Linked DNA regions of Homo sapiens. The protein of the gene in region 1 purifies or fractionates together with the protein of each later gene. This does not show direct contact. Each region holds a gene or a part of one and is shown on either strand. Other genes may lie near its edges.

Evidence for each region.
Region 2: the proteins of RABL6 (region 1) and CPSF2 fractionate together in Homo sapiens (co-fractionation; one large-scale study listed by BioGRID). This does not show direct contact.
Region 3: the proteins of RABL6 (region 1) and EML4 fractionate together in Homo sapiens (co-fractionation; one large-scale study listed by BioGRID). This does not show direct contact.

The regions. Positions count from the first base shown.
Region 1 is NC_000009.12:136,824,736-136,828,464, reverse strand, and holds part of RABL6 (rab-like protein 6), read right to left. Parts: intron 2,687-3,729; coding exon 2,639-2,686; intron 1-2,638. UniProt on the Homo sapiens protein: May enhance cellular proliferation. May reduce growth inhibitory activity of CDKN2A.
Region 2 is NC_000014.9:92,169,807-92,172,645, forward strand, and holds the end of CPSF2 (cleavage and polyadenylation specificity factor subunit 2), read left to right. Parts: 3' UTR 1-2,339; downstream 2,340-2,839. UniProt on the Homo sapiens protein: Component of the cleavage and polyadenylation specificity factor (CPSF) complex that play a key role in pre-mRNA 3'-end formation, recognizing the AAUAAA signal sequence and interacting with poly(A) polymerase and other factors to bring about cleavage and poly(A) addition.
Region 3 is NC_000002.12:42,172,191-42,175,919, forward strand, and holds part of EML4 (echinoderm microtubule-associated protein-like 4), read left to right. Parts: intron 1-3,729. UniProt on the Homo sapiens protein: Essential for the formation and stability of microtubules (MTs). Required for the organization of the mitotic spindle and for the proper attachment of kinetochores to MTs. Promotes the recruitment of NUDC to the mitotic spindle for mitotic progression.

The DNA.
Region 1 (3,729 bases):
GTGGAACCCCTGGGCCTTGGGCCATAGGAGGAGCATGGTCCCCCCATGGCCACTCAGCCCCCAGCTCCAGCGGGTGCTCTACTCCACCACCCCAAACAGCCTGCAGCGTGGGCACCCACAAGCTCTGGAGCAGCAGGACCTGGGCGAGGCCCCTCTGTAGGCTCTGGAGGCAGGGCTGGGCCGGGCCTGGACAGGAGGTGCTAGTTGGGGCTGACAGGCTCAGCAGCTCCTGGACAGGCTGCGGTGGGATGGCCTACAGCCCTACACCAGGAGGGTTTGCTGCTGAAGGAAGGGCCCCCTCCCCCCAGCTCCCCCAAGTCCAGGGTGGGAGGAAGTACAAGGGATATGGTGGGAAGGTGAGGGGCCTCCCCCTGGGGTAAAAGTGGGGAGATGAGCGCACGGACTCTCAAGGCAACAACCAGCCCGGGAGGAAAGGAGAGGGGGGCAGGGATTCCAGCCCTGAAATGGCCTCGGGAGGGAGGAGGGCAGCTGTGTGGTGTCCACGGTCCAGGTCCCCCTGAGCCTCCGCCATCAAGGTCACCATGGCTCTCCTGAGAATGAGGGGCCGTGGTCCCCTCCCTTTAACTCCACAATGCTGACCTGAGGATAAAGGCTCCAGACCATCCTGGGAACTCTGGGGGTCCCAGTCTTGGAGTCACGGACTGGGACAACAAACAAAACCCCTAAGAACAGATGGGGCTCATGTGTTTAAAACGCCACGTCCACTTCATTCCACAGCTTGTTTCTGAACTGCTCACCACGATGTAACCCAGTCAGGGGGTCAGCCCCTCCCTCACAAGGTACAGGGGACAGAGCCAGCCCGGAGGAGCCTCCCCAGTCTGGCCACAAAGGGCTCAGCAGAGTCCCCAACACACACACAGCACAGCACTGCTGGCTGTCGGGGGCCTGCACCCAGGAAGGATGCTCACAGCCTAACCAGCACCCCCCGGGCGAGCCATTGAGACTGGCTGGATCTGCTTTGGGGAAAGCAGGCGGGACTGGAGGGGAGCCGGGTCCTGGCTGACCAGGCGGAGGTGAGGATTGTCGGCTCACCTGAGGCTGCTCCATTCAGCCTCCCTCTTGGCAGCCTGCCCCATGCAGCGTCAGCTAAGCCTGATGGCCTCGGCTTCCTCTCACCCTTGAGAACTCACCAGGTGCCCAAGAGACCTCAACCCCCTCCAATGCACTCCCCACCGGCCGCCCTGGCTGCTGTGGACAGTGCTCACACCTCGCACAGTGGGCACTGAGTCAGGGCGGGGATGGAAGGCACACTGGGCCCCATCATGAAGCTGGGGACCTTTTCCTCCTGAGGGGCCCTGGTTTAGGCTGAGTGAGACTCTCCCGGTGGGTGCTAACAGGTGGGTGCAAGGGTACACATGTAACCCCAGAGGAAGCCCAGGGCCAGGCGGCCTCTGCACCCACAGGCCTCCACACCAGCCCCGGGCACAGCAGGCCACCAGGAAGGGGGGGCCCATCCTAAGCCGTGGAGACCACACCCTTTACAGTGCCCAGTTATGAACCCCACTCTGGGCAACCGTGTCTACGGGAAGCCTGTGCCCGCTCCACGCCAAGGACAGACCCAGGAAGCCAGAGCTGGAGGCACAGGAAATCTCTGCAGCTCCGAAAGGGGCCAGGATGGGGGTCAGGACGGCCCTTCCTGAGCCACCTGGGGGCCACAGGCAGATCTGATAGCTTCTCCTCACAGTGGGGATGAGGACAATGATAGGGCGGTGGGTGGCCACCTCTCTAACACCAGAGACCACGCAGAGCTCTGCAGAGACAGCATCTGGAACACCAGGTCAGCACGGGCCACAAGAGTCCAGCGCAATGTGGTGGGAGCCGCAGGGGCCCAGCACCCCTGCGGGAACTGCATGAGCACCTGCCTCTAACCCCCCATGGCCAAACCCACCCCAACAAAGCACAGGTGGAGGGAGGGGAGCATGCGCCATCCGAACAGACACCATCACACAGAGGCGGCGGCCGCCTTTCCAGCAGAGCCTCGTAACGAGGCCACAGCCAGGCCTGTGAGGCCGGGGCGTGCACGTGGCCAGCCCTGCACACACCACACATGCACACGGACCATGGGCCCCGGGGAGGGCCATGAGCTCCACCCTGAGGACTTAGAGGAACTCATGACCTTGTGGCTGAGGAGGAGACCAACGATGTCGAGGACACCCCGGGGGCTGGTGCTGCCCTCCCACGGTCCCCAGAGTGCAGGTCTGTGTGGCTGGGGATCCCTGGCAGGGACAGGAGCGCAGGAGCTGGGTCCTCAGCTATGGGCAGGGGGCCGCCTGGTGCTGGGCTACTCCGCCAGGCAGTGCAGGAGGAGGGCTCCCAAAATAGCACCCTGGGCCTTGGGGCTCAAAGCACACCCCCCGGCTGCACCTGCCGCCACCGTGCACGCGGTCACTCAGAGACGGGGAGTATGCTAAAGCAGCAAAGCATGCAGTGCCACAGGAGGGGCTGCGCCACGCTGCGGGGTCGCCACTGGATGTGGAGGGGAGCAGAGCAGCAAGACCCTGGGCACCGTCCACGAGGATGGTGGGTGATGCATGGGCGCCGGGGGAAAGAAAGGAAGCCTCTCTGCGCAGAGCACACAGTCCCAGAGAGAAGCAGACACAGAACAGAGACGCCTCACCTTTGTCTACTACATCCCAGACTTCAACCTTCACGATGTCATCCGTGGCTGAAACAGGGAGAATCCTAAAATTAGTGCCCAACATGAAGTTCCCAAGGTGGCACAAAGCGGTCCAGCTGGTGTGGTTGTCTGTGCCCCGCAGCCACCGGCTCCCACCAGGACTTCCGAGTGTCCAGAAGCAGGGGATGTGTCCTCCCCAGACGACCACATGGCGGCTCCTTCAGGCCTTCGCTCAGACACAGCTTCAGTGACAAACTGAATGCACGGTATCTCCCTCCGCAGCCCCAATCCTGGGCACGGCCCCTCCCTCCCGGGCCCCGATCCTGGGCACGGCCCCTCCCTCCAGGGCCCCGATCCTGGGCACGGCCCCTCCCTCCCCGGCCCCGATCCTGGGCACGGCCCCTCCCTCCCGGGCCCCGATCCTGGGCACGGCCCCTCCTGGCCTCAGCATACTGGAAGGGGACCCTCCTGGCTGGGTCGATGTCTGTGTTTTTGCCCATGGAGTACGCTTCTGCTGACAGGTGCGAATGAATGGGCCCGCCTGTGTCACCTTCTGACCCTGTTTCTTCATCCAGTGACTGGCCTCTAGTTCACTTTGAGGGAGCAGAATCTAAGTAATCACTGAGGGCGGAGGCCGGACCCTCCCTTCGGAGCCACCTGAGAGGCCCCAGGCCTGCCTCACACCGCACCATCGCAGCTGGGCCTGCTGGTGCCAACCACTCCTCCTGAGCTCCCATGACTGTGCTCTGTTGTGGGGCGTGCTGGGGACTGGGGGAGCTGATGGATGGAGCCTCCCGCCCACCCAAGGATTCCAAGGGGAAGGGAGAACCAGAGGGGAGAGGCACGCCCGGGGCCCTCACACAGCCAGGCATCTGCCCCCACACCAATCACATCCACGTCGCCTGAGCAGAGGGGCATGAACGCTGCCATCAGCCTCACCCCAAACCAGGAAGAGGGTGCGGTGGCAGGTAGAGCTTCTGTGCGCCGGCCCTGTGGGCTCTGTGTCCTGTCAGCCCAGCACCACCCTCCCAGGCCCTAGAGAGCAGCAGATGCCCAGCAACTCCACGGCTGTTCCTGCACAGCAGTCCAAG
Region 2 (2,839 bases), on another chromosome or scaffold:
ATGAAACCGTTAAGTAGAGATTTTTCTAATAGTATAAAAATCAGTGTAGGCCCAGCACAGTGGTTCACACCTGTAATCCCAGCACCTTGGGAGGCTAAAGGCAGGAGGATTGCTTGAGCTCAGGAGTTTGAGACCAACCTGGGCAACATAGTGAGAACTCATCTCTATTAAAAATCAGAAAAATTGGCCAGGTGTGGTGGCTCATGCCTGTAGTCCCAGTTACTCAGGAGGCTGAGGCAGGAGGATCCCTTGAGATTGAGGCTTCAGTGAGCTAATGATCGCGCCACTGCACTCCAGCCTGGGTGACAGAGTGAGACCCTGTCTCAAAAACAACAAAAATCTCAGTGTGACAAATTCCTAACAGCTCAAATACTACTTGTCTTATTTGTTAACTATTTTGAAATAATTTTAAACTTACAGAAAAGTAGAATAGTTCAAAAGATCCTGTATATCCTTCCCCTAGATTCTTCTATTGTTAACATCTTGCCATATTTTCCATACCACTCTCTAGCTATGTATTCACATTATTTTTTGAACTGTTTGTTACTAAGTTGCAATTGTGATGTCCCATTAGTACTAAATACTTAAGTGTATACTTTTTAAAAACAAGGACACTCCTACATAACCACAGTACTTAAAATCAGGAAACCAGCATTGATAAAATTCTACCATTTGATCCACGAACCCCATTCAAATGTTGCCATTTACTCCAAAAATATCCTTACAATAACCCTTTCCTTTTTTGGTCCACAGTCCAATCAGGATGAAGCACGCATTTAGTTACATTTTCCCTTTAGTCTTCCTCAATCTGGAGCGGTTCCTTGGTTTTTCCTTTTTTGTGACCTTGACATTTTTGAAGAATGCAGGCCAGGTACTTTGTAGAATGATGTGCACTTTGGGTTTGTCTGATATTTCCTCAAGATTAGATTCAGGTTGTGAATTTTTGGCAGGAATACCAGAGAGGTGATGCTGTCTTCTTCTCTGCATTGTATCAGGAGGCACATCATGTCAATTTTTTCCATTACTGGTGATGTTAATTTTTAACAGTTGGTTACGATGTTTTCAAGATTTCTCCACTGTTAGTATTTTCTCCACTTGTATTTGTTTTTTGGTATAAACTTAAAAAGTACAGCATGATGTTTTGGTATATGTATCCATAGTGAAATGATTATTACAGGTATTAATTAATGAGGAATTACGTATTTTGTGGGTAGCTATTTTGAGACTCTCAATATCCTATTTCTCAAAATTTTACCCTTTACTTTTAGCATCCATTGATGATCCTTGTCTGGATCAGTTATTGCCAAATGGTAGTTTTCTTTTCTTTTCTTTTCTTTTGAGACAGTGTCTTGCTCTGTTGCCCAGGCTACAGTGCAGTGATGAGATCATAGCCCACTGCAGCCTCAAACTCCTGGGCTCATGCCATTTTCCCCTCAGCTTTTGGAGTTAGCTGGGACTACAGGCATGCATCACCACACCCAGATTATTTTTAAAGTTTTTGTAGAAACGGGGTCTCTTCTTCCCCATTTATTCAATATTTATATCAGTATAGAACATGGGTCCCTGTTTTATCATCTGTAAGTTATGATTTATTTTGATGCCCCCATTGTCCAAGATTTGACTAGCGAGAGCACTTTCCAGCTAGCTCCTGTGTCCTTTGGACATACCCCATGGTTCATTGAGCACTTCCTTGCTTTCTGGCACCACAAGATGTTCCAGGCTCGTCTTCTATTTTCCCTACCCCGCTCCTGACATCAGCCATTTCTCCAAAGAGTCCTGGTTCATATTAGTGGAGAATGGTATTTAAAACCAAGATCCGGATGCTAAAGGCTGTGCTCATTGCCCCTGTGCTAGCATTGCCACTGTGCGTTCTCCCAGTGGACAAATTTGGAAATATATGCGTCTATGCTTGTTACCTCATCCATCCATATATATATTAAAAACAAGTACACACTGATACCTATTTCACATCTACTCCACAGAGTTTATTCTAGTCTTCTCCCTTTCCACAATTGTATCTTCTCCACCCTATATTTAAAAACTGGACTTCCAGAGTCTCCAATACATTGGCTTATTTGTTCATTTTCCCTGTGATTAACCAACCTCCTGACCACGTGGCTGGCTCCTTTGCTCCATCTCTGCCCCTCACCCCCTACCGTACATCACTGCTGTGAGGACCAAGTTTCCTCCCTTTCCTCGATCCATGACAGCACCTGCCAGTTGAACCCCACAGTGGGAATTTTAAAGAAGGCACTTTTGGCTCAGATGGCAGTGCCAAAGCAGGCATTCCAATTCACATGGTGCTCTAGCAATTGTGAAATAAACAGATTCTGAAGGTCTGTCCTGGACTGTGTATAGTCTTTGGGTTTTTGTCTTGCTTATTTTGTTAAAATGTTTTCCTGATGACTTTCTATTCTATAGTAAAGCCTTATACATAATGTTCAAGCAGGCGTCAGACAAAATAATGATCATTGTGGAGAGGAGTTAGGAAGGAAAAGATGAAAAGGAAGAAGGCGTAAACCCAATATTGAGAGGAGAAATGGGTACGGCAGGAGTAGCCGTCTGAATCCGAAATGCTGTCTGAGCCAGGACACATTCACAGTTAGAGATCTTAAGTAATGTGTTAATATTATTTTATAACTGTCCTTGCAAAAACAAAACAAAACTGCCTGTCAGTTCATTTGGATCATCCACCCACTTAAGTTTTAGGAGTGTCAGGACCAAGTTAGCTGTATTGAGTGCTGAGGTGTTCTTTTATTAAACAGTCAGCTATTCAATCTTAATAATTTGTAGTGGGAGGAATAATATGCCCCTGGACAAATAATTCCTTGGAAAGCTC
Region 3 (3,729 bases), on another chromosome or scaffold:
AAAAACTACATTTTTATAAGCAGAAAAATTGAGTACTTTATAAACAGAATAATTTTAGAGAAGAGATTATTTCAGAGAATCCTATGGTGACTCATTTTGTGAAGTGAAAACTTAAAATTCAAACTGTACCCTTGATTGTTGCATGTTTAGATAAGAAATCCACTGTGTTATGTGCATTTTATAAGATGTCTAATGGCAATTAAGACTAGGTAGTGGTTTTTTAAATCATAGGAATGATAAGTGATTGGCCATTTTATAAATGCCACATTGAAGTTACATGGTACTGATTATGTTATCTTTGTTTTACATAAAAAACAAGTGAAGAATTCTTTTAATCTCCGCAGCTGATGAATTTCAGGCAACTTGGCTGGCAGGTGCTTGTACTCTGGAATTTCCCTTAGGTATTATTAATATATCTTTTAATCCACAAATTATGGTAACTTAAGGCAGCACTTTAGAAACCTTTTTTTTTTTAAACTTAGGAGAGAAAAGTACTCAATTACCTTGATGTGTTGCCTCTAAATCACTACATATAGATACCCATGTGCAAAATGTATATACTGTATGTATATTAAATCTCAGGTCTATGTGCAAAAGTGGGAAGCTATTCATACAGCTTTTACCGATTTTTTATAAGGCAGGGATTGGGTGCATTTCATGCTTAATCTTTTTAGAATCTCTTTCATAATAGAGGTTTAATTTTAAGACTTTTATCTTGGAATTAACCTAGAGATTAGTCTGTTTTCACTTGAAAGAAACCTTATACCTAACCAGTCAGCTTTAAATTTTTCTGCCTCAAAAGTTAAACAACAAAACTTAAAATCTTCTTCCCCCTAAGAAAAATCATAGTGAATGAAATTGTTGGATTAGGATCTATAAGAAACAACATTCTGGGTACAGGTTGTAAATGTGAACAAGTATAGCAGTATGCTTCAACTTATGGACTATTCAGAAATTAGTCTTTTTAACATCACATTGTTAGAACTGTGATTTCTCATCACAGATAATAGTCTTGCTTTCTTAAAGGAACAATGCTGTATATGATTTTCACATATTAATCTAAAGCATTCCTTATTTACATGAAAATGTTTTTCATGTAATATTTGGAGAGGTTTTTTTTTTAAACTTTTTTTATTGGTTGCCTCTTGAAGAGTTCAAGATAGACTCAAGTTGTGTAACCAGACATGAGTAGTAACTCTTAAATGGTTAGTAGAGCATCTTCAACATGAGTTAGCTAGAGTGTTTTTCAACATATGTATGGATTAACATCGAACATGGGCTAGCACTATGCTTGGTGGTTCTTATGGGAAAGACAAGTAAAAGACATGCTTTTTGCCCTTTAGGAGCTTACTGCCTGGTTTTTAAATAAGTACCATGACTAGGTGCAGTGGCTCACGCCTGTAGTCCCAGCACTTTGGGAGGCTGAGGTGGAAGGATCGATTGAGCCCAGTAGTTTGAGACCAGCCTGGGCAACATAGCAAGACCCTGTCTCTGCAAAAAAAACAAAAATAGGCATAGTGGCATGTGCCTGTAACCCCAGCTACTTGGGAGGCTGAGGCAGGAGGATCACTTGAGCACAGGAGTTGAAGGTTGCAGTGAGCTATGATTGTACCACTGCACTCCACTGGGCCACAGAGCAAACCTCTGCCTCTAAAAAATAAATAAATAAATAAAGTATGTACTGTATGTAGAGATGTTTATTATTAAGCCTAAGTACCAGAAATGGGGATGAAGGGAGGAAGCACCATTTAGAATGCTGTGCTATGTTTCAAGCAAGTAACTTCTGAGAGAACATTTGTTGATTGCTAGATTTATCTCTGCAGAGCTTGGCTTTTTAAAACAATGAAATAATTTAGCAGTTTAAATTCTAGGGAGTCTTTTTCTGTCTTATGTGTAAGTTGGAATAACATGTAGCAAAATACTGTATTTTGTATGTGGGAGTCCATTTCTGTAACATGTAAAACTTCAATATTCATAAGAAATTTTAGAAAAATATTTTGATTTTTAAAATAGATTCTAATACTTGTAAAAAGTTTAGGGAAAGAATCTACTTCATCTAGTATTACCTCAGTGTGGAAGATTCCCAAATCTATAGTATATTTCTTTGTGTGTGTGTGTCTGACGGAGTCTTGCTCTGTCTCCCAGGCTGGAGTACAATGGCACGATCTCAGCTCACTGCAACCTCTGCCTCCTGGGTTCAAGCGATTCTCCTGCCTCAGCCTCCTGAGTAGCTGGGATTACAGTTGTGTACCACCACACCTGGCTAATTTTTGTATTTTTAGTAGAGACAGGTTTTCACTATGTTGGCCAGGCTGGTCTCAAACCCCTGACCTCGGGTGATGGCCACGCACCTTGGCCTCCCAAAGTTCTGGGATTACAGGTGTGAGCCACTGTGCCTGACCCTGTAGTATATTTGTATGTCGGTATATGATCTCTTGTCCTTTAGCTGTCTTAGGCTTTTATAATACCTTAATTTTGCATGCTGTATATGATTTTTAAATATTATTTTAAAGCATTCCTTATTTACAGTTTACAAAGAGCTTTTATCTCATTTAATTTGCATACTAACCTTGGGAGATAAATTATTATACTTTTATAGGTGAAAAAGGTCTAGAAAGTGGTTTTTTTTTGTTTGTTTGTTTTTTGAGACAGAGTCTTGCTCTGTTGCCCAGGCTGGAGTGCAATGGCGCGATCTCGGCTCACTGCAGCCTCCGCCTCCCGGGTTTAGGCAGTTATCTGCCTCAGCCTCCCTAGTAGCTGGGATTACAGGTGCCCGCCAGCATGTCTGGCTAATTTTTGTATTTTTAGTAGAGACGGGGTTTCACCATCTTGGCCAGGCTGGTCTTGAACTCCTGACCTTGTGTGATCCACCCACCTTGGCCTCCCTTACAGGTGTGAGCCACCGTGCCTGGCCGTGTTTTTGTTTGTTTGTTTGTTTTTGAGACGGAGTCTTGCTCTATTGCCCAGGCTGGAGTGCAGTGGCACCATGTTGGCTCACTGCAGCCTCTGCCTCCCGTGTTCAAGCTATTCTCCTGCCTCAAGCCTCCCGAGTAGCTGGGACTACAGGCACTCACCACCACACCTGGCTAATTTTTTGTATTTTTAGTAGAGATGGGGTTTCACTGTGTTAGCCAGGATGGTTGTGATCGCCTGACCTTGTTATTCGCCTGCCTCGGCCTTCCAAAGTGCTGGCATTACAGACGTGAGCCACCGCACCTGGCCAAGAGTGTGTTATTTTTTTAAAAGGTTAAGTCCAGGTTTTTTCTTTTTTTGTATGGTTGGGAGTGTTTGTATCTATATTATTTTTATTTTATTTTATTTTGTTTTTTTGAGACAGAGTTTCTGTCGCCCAGGCTGGAGTACAGTGGCACAGTCTTGGCTCACTGCAACTTCTGCCTCCTGGATTCAAGCGATTCTTGTGCCTCAGCCTCCCGAGTAGCTGAGATGACAGGTGTGCACCACCGCACCCAGCTAATTTTTGTATTTTTAATAGAGAAGAGGTTTTGCCATATTGGCCAAGCTGGTCTTGAACTGCTGTCCTCAAGTGATCCATCCACCTCAGCCTCCCAAAGTGCTGGGATTAGAGGTGTGAGTCACCATGCCCAGCATCATATTATTTTTAAATAAAACACCATAGAAAGGAAAGAAGAATAGAAAAATAAATTATCTTTAGCCCATTTGTATGCAGCTGATGTTAACATGTTAATGTACTTGTTCTTAGTCTTTTCC